Homo sapiens: one gene and its partner. The protein of the gene in region 2 interacts with the protein of the main gene of each other region in a pairwise test. Each region holds a gene or a part of one and is shown on either strand. Other genes may lie near its edges. The genes, in order: TRIM58 and TLR2.

What was found.
Region 1: the proteins of TLR2 (region 2) and TRIM58 interact in a two-hybrid assay, tested with the Homo sapiens proteins (one large-scale study listed by BioGRID).

The regions. Positions count from the first base shown.
Region 1 is NC_000001.11:247,859,950-247,863,782, forward strand, and holds part of TRIM58 (E3 ubiquitin-protein ligase TRIM58), read left to right. Parts: intron 1-667; coding exon 668-763; intron 764-3,833. UniProt on the Homo sapiens protein: E3 ubiquitin ligase induced during late erythropoiesis. Directly binds and ubiquitinates the intermediate chain of the microtubule motor dynein (DYNC1LI1/DYNC1LI2), stimulating the degradation of the dynein holoprotein complex.
Region 2 is NC_000004.12:153,701,149-153,704,221, forward strand, and holds part of TLR2 (toll-like receptor 2 precursor), read left to right. Parts: intron 1-1,078; exon of another isoform or gene 1,079-1,743; 5' UTR 1,744-1,759; coding exon 1,760-3,073. UniProt on the Homo sapiens protein: Cooperates with LY96 to mediate the innate immune response to bacterial lipoproteins and other microbial cell wall components. Cooperates with TLR1 or TLR6 to mediate the innate immune response to bacterial lipoproteins or lipopeptides.

The DNA of each region.
Region 1 (3,833 bases), on a different chromosome or scaffold from region 2:
TTTTCAAAATTCATGTTGTTTTGTAAAATATTTTTATTCATTGGACATTATCATTGTATTTCTAGTCATTAAACATTCTGTAACATCTTATTTTAATTCTATCCAGTTAATATAATTTTTTTCTCCCCTATCTTTAATGTTTTAGTTTAGTTATGCTATCGTATATAACAATGCAGTGAGCATACTTTTAGATAAATATTTGATTGTATCTGGTATTAAAATACATTTAAGGAGCTAGGCCCAGTGGCTCATGCCTATAATCCCAGCACTTTGGAAGGCCAAGATGGGAGACTCTCTGGAGGCCAGCAGTTTGACACCAGCCTGGGCAATATAGTAAGACCCCATCTCTACAGAAAACAAAATTAGCTGAATGTAATGATGTGTGCCTGGAGTCCTAGCTGCTTGGGAGGCTGAGGTGGGAGGATCATTTGATCCCAGGAGTTTGAGGCTGCAGTGAGCCATGATCGCAACACTGCACAACCTGAGTGACAGAGCGAGACCCTGACACTAAAACTTAAGTACATTTATGTTTAGTTTTTAATGATATTGAACATTTTTATGTGCTTTCTAGGGACTGTTTAAGTTGACTTTTGTATTTCCTCACACATCTGTGTGACGTTAGGTACAGATTGAGGGCATCTGTAACAGCTGAAATGTTCCCAAACAGGTAAAGCTCCAGATGGCTCTGGAACTTATGAGGAAAGAGTTGGAGGACGCCTTGACTCAGGAGGCCAACGTGGGGAAAAAGACTGTCATTTGGAAGGTAAGACCATGTTGGGGCTTTAGGAGGCTTGCCTGTTTGAAGGATCCAGATTCGGGTCAGTAATTCTTCTACCATCTTCCATTCTCCAGCACTTTTGTTCCATCTCCATATATGCCCAAGAGCACCTCAGAGCCATCCTGGGTCATCCCGTCCCCTCAAATGATATGGTTCATTTTTGTTCTTTTTGTCTCTACTGCCATCACCCAATCCAAATTATAATTAAATAGCTTTGCTAGTTTGATCTTCCTGTAAAACCCACTGCTGTATCCCTGTCACCTAGAATAGCATCTTATACTGTTGCTACCAGTTTGAAAATATTTGTTAGGTGAATGAAATAATGAATATTTCACAACTTTGTAACAGAAGAAGTGTAGCCCAAGGTGATCATCTTATATACAGGGTAATAATCTGAACGTTTAGCCTTTTTTTTCTATCATCTATACATACACATATTCCATTTTTTTATACCTCACTAGCTCTTTTTATTCCATGTTTCATTCATGCACATGTGCGTGCACACGTGTACACACACACACAGTGATTCATACACACACAGTGATTCACATACACACACACACACAGTGATTCTCAACCTGAGGCGATACCTGCCCCCCAAGATAACATTTTGCAATTTCTGGAGATGATATTTTTGGATGTCACAACTGAGGAGGGGTGGGTGCAGTGCACCTGTCATCTAGTAGAGGCAGGAATGCAGCTTAACACCCTGTAGTCCACAGGACAGTTCCCATATCTTGTGAGGAAAAAATGATCTGTTCAAGATGTCAGTAGTGTCAAGATTGAGAAACTACGTATAGAAACTGTGTGTATAGTTCTATATATTCATATAATGTATTATATAATATGATATATAATAGGTTATACTTTGCAGAATATTCCTATTCTTTCTCCTTTTCCAAATAACCCTTCTTTTCTGATCACTCTATATATTTATAATTATTTCCTTCTTGTTTTCTTTGAAAATTTAGTCTTATACTCTGTCTTTATACAGATATTACATAAAGACTTTTTAAACTATATTTTTCTTTATTTACTACATTACTAGATTACAATATAGATATATACGGATAGGAAAAGATAACACTTATCCCAGAAGAAACATGTACATTAAGGCCAGGCGTGGTGGCTCACACCTGTAATCTCAGCACTTTGGGAAGCCGAAGCAGGTGGATCACCTGAGGTCAGGAGTTCGAGACCAGCCTGACCAACACGGAGAAACCCCGTCTCTACTAAAAATACAAAAAAAAATTAGCCAGGCGTGGTGGCACATGCCTATAATCCCAGCTACTCGGGAGGCTGAGGCAGGAGAATTGCTTGAACCTAGGAGGCAGAGGTTGTGGTGAGCTGAGATCGTGCCATTGCACTCCAGCCTGGGCAACAAGAGTGAAACTCTGTCTCAGACAAAAAAAGGAAAAAAGAAAAGAAAAATGTACATTATAGGTAAATGATGTAGATAGTGATAGGAAAGGATAAAAGTTATCAATATTAAATAATATTGATGTTAATAACATTAGTACCTAACGTTACTCAGATGTGTGAAGAAATATTTAAACTTATTAACGTTGATACTGACAAACTTATCAATATTATTAACAAATATCTTTAAACTAGTAGTGACAGTATAAGATGCAATTCTAGGTGATAGGGATATAGCAGTGGGTTCTGCAGTAAGATCAAGCTAGTAAAGCATAGTTTCGATTGGGTAGTGGCAATGGAGATAAAAAGAACAAGAACAAAGCTTTACAGTATTAAATAATGTTCATTACTTGCCTATAATGTACATAGTGGTAGGATGTACATTATTTAATATTGTAATATTGATTGATAATTTTTGTTCTTTTCAGGCTGAAATACAAGTCAGTTGTTTTCAATCCTGGCCTGACCATAGATCTATAAAATCAGAATCCCCATATCGGAGAGCTGAGTTCCTGCATGTTTTAAGCCCTCTACAGATTATTCTTAAGTAGGGATGATACTAAGATCCCTGTTCTAAGCCAAGTAAACTTGCATGATCATTACCATCAAGAATGTCTCCATGTGAGCCAAATGCAGCAAACACATCTTTGGTCAAAAGTTATTCTAAATACTGCAAAACCACCTTTCCTTTTTCTCTGTCTGCAGATATAGTTGTGCTCAAGAGGGTGGTGTGAAAGGAAGATGGATTGCAGGCAAATCGCTTCCCACCTTCCCACCTCACACCCCCTCGTGCCCCAGGTATGACTCTACCCTTCTCCAGTGGCTGCGTTATTTGCCCCACCCCACGACAGCACAGCCTCTGATATGAAGAGAGCTTCTCATATTTACATGAGTTACACTTTCAGGAATCAGTGTATGGAATTCAGACTTGGCTGATTTCAGAAAGAAGATGAAGTTTTCTGAATCTGGTGATTTAGAAAATGGTGGAAGGAGGTAGAGATGGAAAATGGAAGGAAGTAGTTAAGTCTTAGGGGATGTTTAGTTTAAAAAGGTGATAGCTCATGCCTTTTAGTCAAAGCAAGAAGTTATCACGTTTAAAAACAGGCAAATAGGCTGGGCACAGTGGCTCACGCCTGTAATCCCAGCACTTTGGGAGGCCGATGCGGGCCGATCGTGAGGTCAGGAGTTTGAGACCAGCCTGACCAATACGGTGAAACCCTGTCTCTACTAAAAATACAAAAATTAGCTGGGCATGGTGCTGCGTGCCTGTAATCCCACTTACTCGGGAGGCTGAGACAGGAGAATCACTTGAACCCAGGAGGAGGAGGTTGTAGTGAGCCGAGATCGCGCCACTGCACTCTAGCCTGGGTGACAGAGCGAGACTCTGTCTCAAAAAAAAGATTAAAAAAAAAACCAGGCAAATGACTTCACCTACAAGGCCGTATAACAATGTAACAAAACTGCATTTGTACCCCATGAATATATACAAAAAATAAAATAAATCGATAAAACAGGACAGAGAATGGGAGGTATAGATACTTTGAGGGAATAATTTACCTCTCGTACTCAGCTTAAAGTTAGTTTTCGATATACTTATCTTGAGAGAAGAAAATCTAGAAACTAAGCCTGGGACGAA
Region 2 (3,073 bases):
GTCTCCTCCAAAATTCATATTGAAACTTAATCCCCATTGTAACAGTACTAATCCTAAAACTAAGTATTAAGAGGTGTGACCTGTGGGAAGTGACTAAGTCATGAGGGGTCTTTCCTCAGGTATGGGATTAGCATCCTTATAAAAGGCCTTGAGATGGAATGTAGTGCCCCCTTGCCCTCTTGCGTTCTCCCATGTGAGGACACAGCAACAAGGCACCATCTTGGAAGGAGAGAGAAGCCCTCACCAGACAACAGTGCACATGCCTTGATCTTAGACTTCCCAGCCTCCAGAGCTATAATAAATACATTTCTGTTCTTTATAAATTACTTGGTCTCTGGTATTTTGTTACAGAAGCACTAATGGACTAAGACAAAAAGATTCCATTATGAAAGTGAAAAGGCAACCGCAGAGTGGCAGAAGCTTTTGGAGATGATGAATATGTTTACTTCCTGGATTGCGGTGATGATACCATGAGTGTATACATATGTGTGTATACATAATGTATACAAATTGTGTTCATTGATTATGTACAGTTTCTTTGTATACCAATTATACCTTAATAAAGCTAAGGAAAAAAAAAAGAAAATCCAGAATAAATATGCATGGTATGACCCATTTATTTAAAAAAAAAAAGAGGGAATGCGAAGCAGTGGTTTTGGTGCGAACACAAAAATTCTGGCTTCAACAGCATTTAAATTCCCAAACCAAGCATGTTTGTGTTTTAATTCTTTGTGGCCATAAATTGTACAGCTCAGGCCTTTATAGTCTCTCAGATTCTGTGAATGTGGGGAATTAGTTTTACTCATAAAAAGTTTTGTTCTTGGGGATAAATTTTTTAAAAAAATTTTTGTATAGTTAGCACACTGAGAAAATACAGACAAAGGCATACAGATGCAAGAAATGAGGTAGCTGAATAGACCAAAGAATGATATAGGGCCCAGAAGGTAGGCAAAGAGAAAGTTGTTGGGTTTATGGTTACAAGTAAACTAGCAGTTGTGGTGCAGATAGTTTTATTTCCCCCACATTAATCTGAACAGCCCATCCAGACTTAAACACTGCTTTTTGCATTTACTTCTAGGCAGGAAGACAGGGTTCTGATGGTGTGAGTCTCCTTCAACTCAGCAAACCACCTTGGTCTGCCTCGAGTTTCCAACACCCCTCCTGCCTGCTAGTGATAGGTGTGAGGCAGGTTGATGAACATGGAACTTTTTTCTTTTGGTCCCAAAGCATGCTACTCCTGGAGTTTCATTCAGTGAATGAGAACTATAGTTTGGTTCTGTGAGATCTCTATGAATCAAGGCGGCCACTGAAGCGGAGAAAAGAAATGCTTAAATGTTAAGAAAGTTTGAAGTGCAGAAAAAGGTGATTGTAAATCCATATGGTTAAGCTTAGCCCATTTCTTAAAAGGCTTGATTGCTCATTCCTCCATTCATTGATTTACTCACTCTTCCAATCCATGTTATTGAGTCTTGCTCTGTAATTCCGGATGGTTGTGCTTTTAAGTACTGCATAGTGGTTGTATGTCTGTGTTAGCATTGCTGAATGTATCAGGGAATTCATTTTTTTATCCCCATTCATTCGTTCCATTCATCTGTTTCTCTCTCTCTCTCTCTTTGTGTGTGTGTGTGTGTGTGTGTGTGTGTGTGTGTGTGTGTGTGTTATGCCTAGAAAACATTTCTCAAGAATTAGAATTACGATATGCTGTCAAACACAATGACTTATTTGAACCTCTTTTATTTGTAGGTTGAAGCACTGGACAATGCCACATACTTTGTGGATGGTGTGGGTCTTGGGGGTCATCATCAGCCTCTCCAAGGAAGAATCCTCCAATCAGGCTTCTCTGTCTTGTGACCGCAATGGTATCTGCAAGGGCAGCTCAGGATCTTTAAACTCCATTCCCTCAGGGCTCACAGAAGCTGTAAAAAGCCTTGACCTGTCCAACAACAGGATCACCTACATTAGCAACAGTGACCTACAGAGGTGTGTGAACCTCCAGGCTCTGGTGCTGACATCCAATGGAATTAACACAATAGAGGAAGATTCTTTTTCTTCCCTGGGCAGTCTTGAACATTTAGACTTATCCTATAATTACTTATCTAATTTATCGTCTTCCTGGTTCAAGCCCCTTTCTTCTTTAACATTCTTAAACTTACTGGGAAATCCTTACAAAACCCTAGGGGAAACATCTCTTTTTTCTCATCTCACAAAATTGCAAATCCTGAGAGTGGGAAATATGGACACCTTCACTAAGATTCAAAGAAAAGATTTTGCTGGACTTACCTTCCTTGAGGAACTTGAGATTGATGCTTCAGATCTACAGAGCTATGAGCCAAAAAGTTTGAAGTCAATTCAGAATGTAAGTCATCTGATCCTTCATATGAAGCAGCATATTTTACTGCTGGAGATTTTTGTAGATGTTACAAGTTCCGTGGAATGTTTGGAACTGCGAGATACTGATTTGGACACTTTCCATTTTTCAGAACTATCCACTGGTGAAACAAATTCATTGATTAAAAAGTTTACATTTAGAAATGTGAAAATCACCGATGAAAGTTTGTTTCAGGTTATGAAACTTTTGAATCAGATTTCTGGATTGTTAGAATTAGAGTTTGATGACTGTACCCTTAATGGAGTTGGTAATTTTAGAGCATCTGATAATGACAGAGTTATAGATCCAGGTAAAGTGGAAACGTTAACAATCCGGAGGCTGCATATTCCAAGGTTTTACTTATTTTATGATCTGAGCACTTTATATTCACTTACAGAAAGAGTTAAAAGAATCACAGTAGAAAACAGTAAAGTTTTTCTGGTTCCTTGTTTACTTTCACAACATTTAAAATCATTAGAATACTTGGATCTCAGTGAAAATTTGATGGTTGAAGAATACTTGAAAAATTCAGCCTGTGAGGATGCCTGGCCCTCTCTACAAACTTTAATTTTAAGGCAAAATCATTTGGCATCATTGGAAAAAACCGGAGAGACTTTGCTCACTCTGAAAAACTTGACTAACATTGATATCAGTAAGAATAGTTTTCATTCTATGCCTGAAACTTGTCAGTGGCCAGAAAAGATG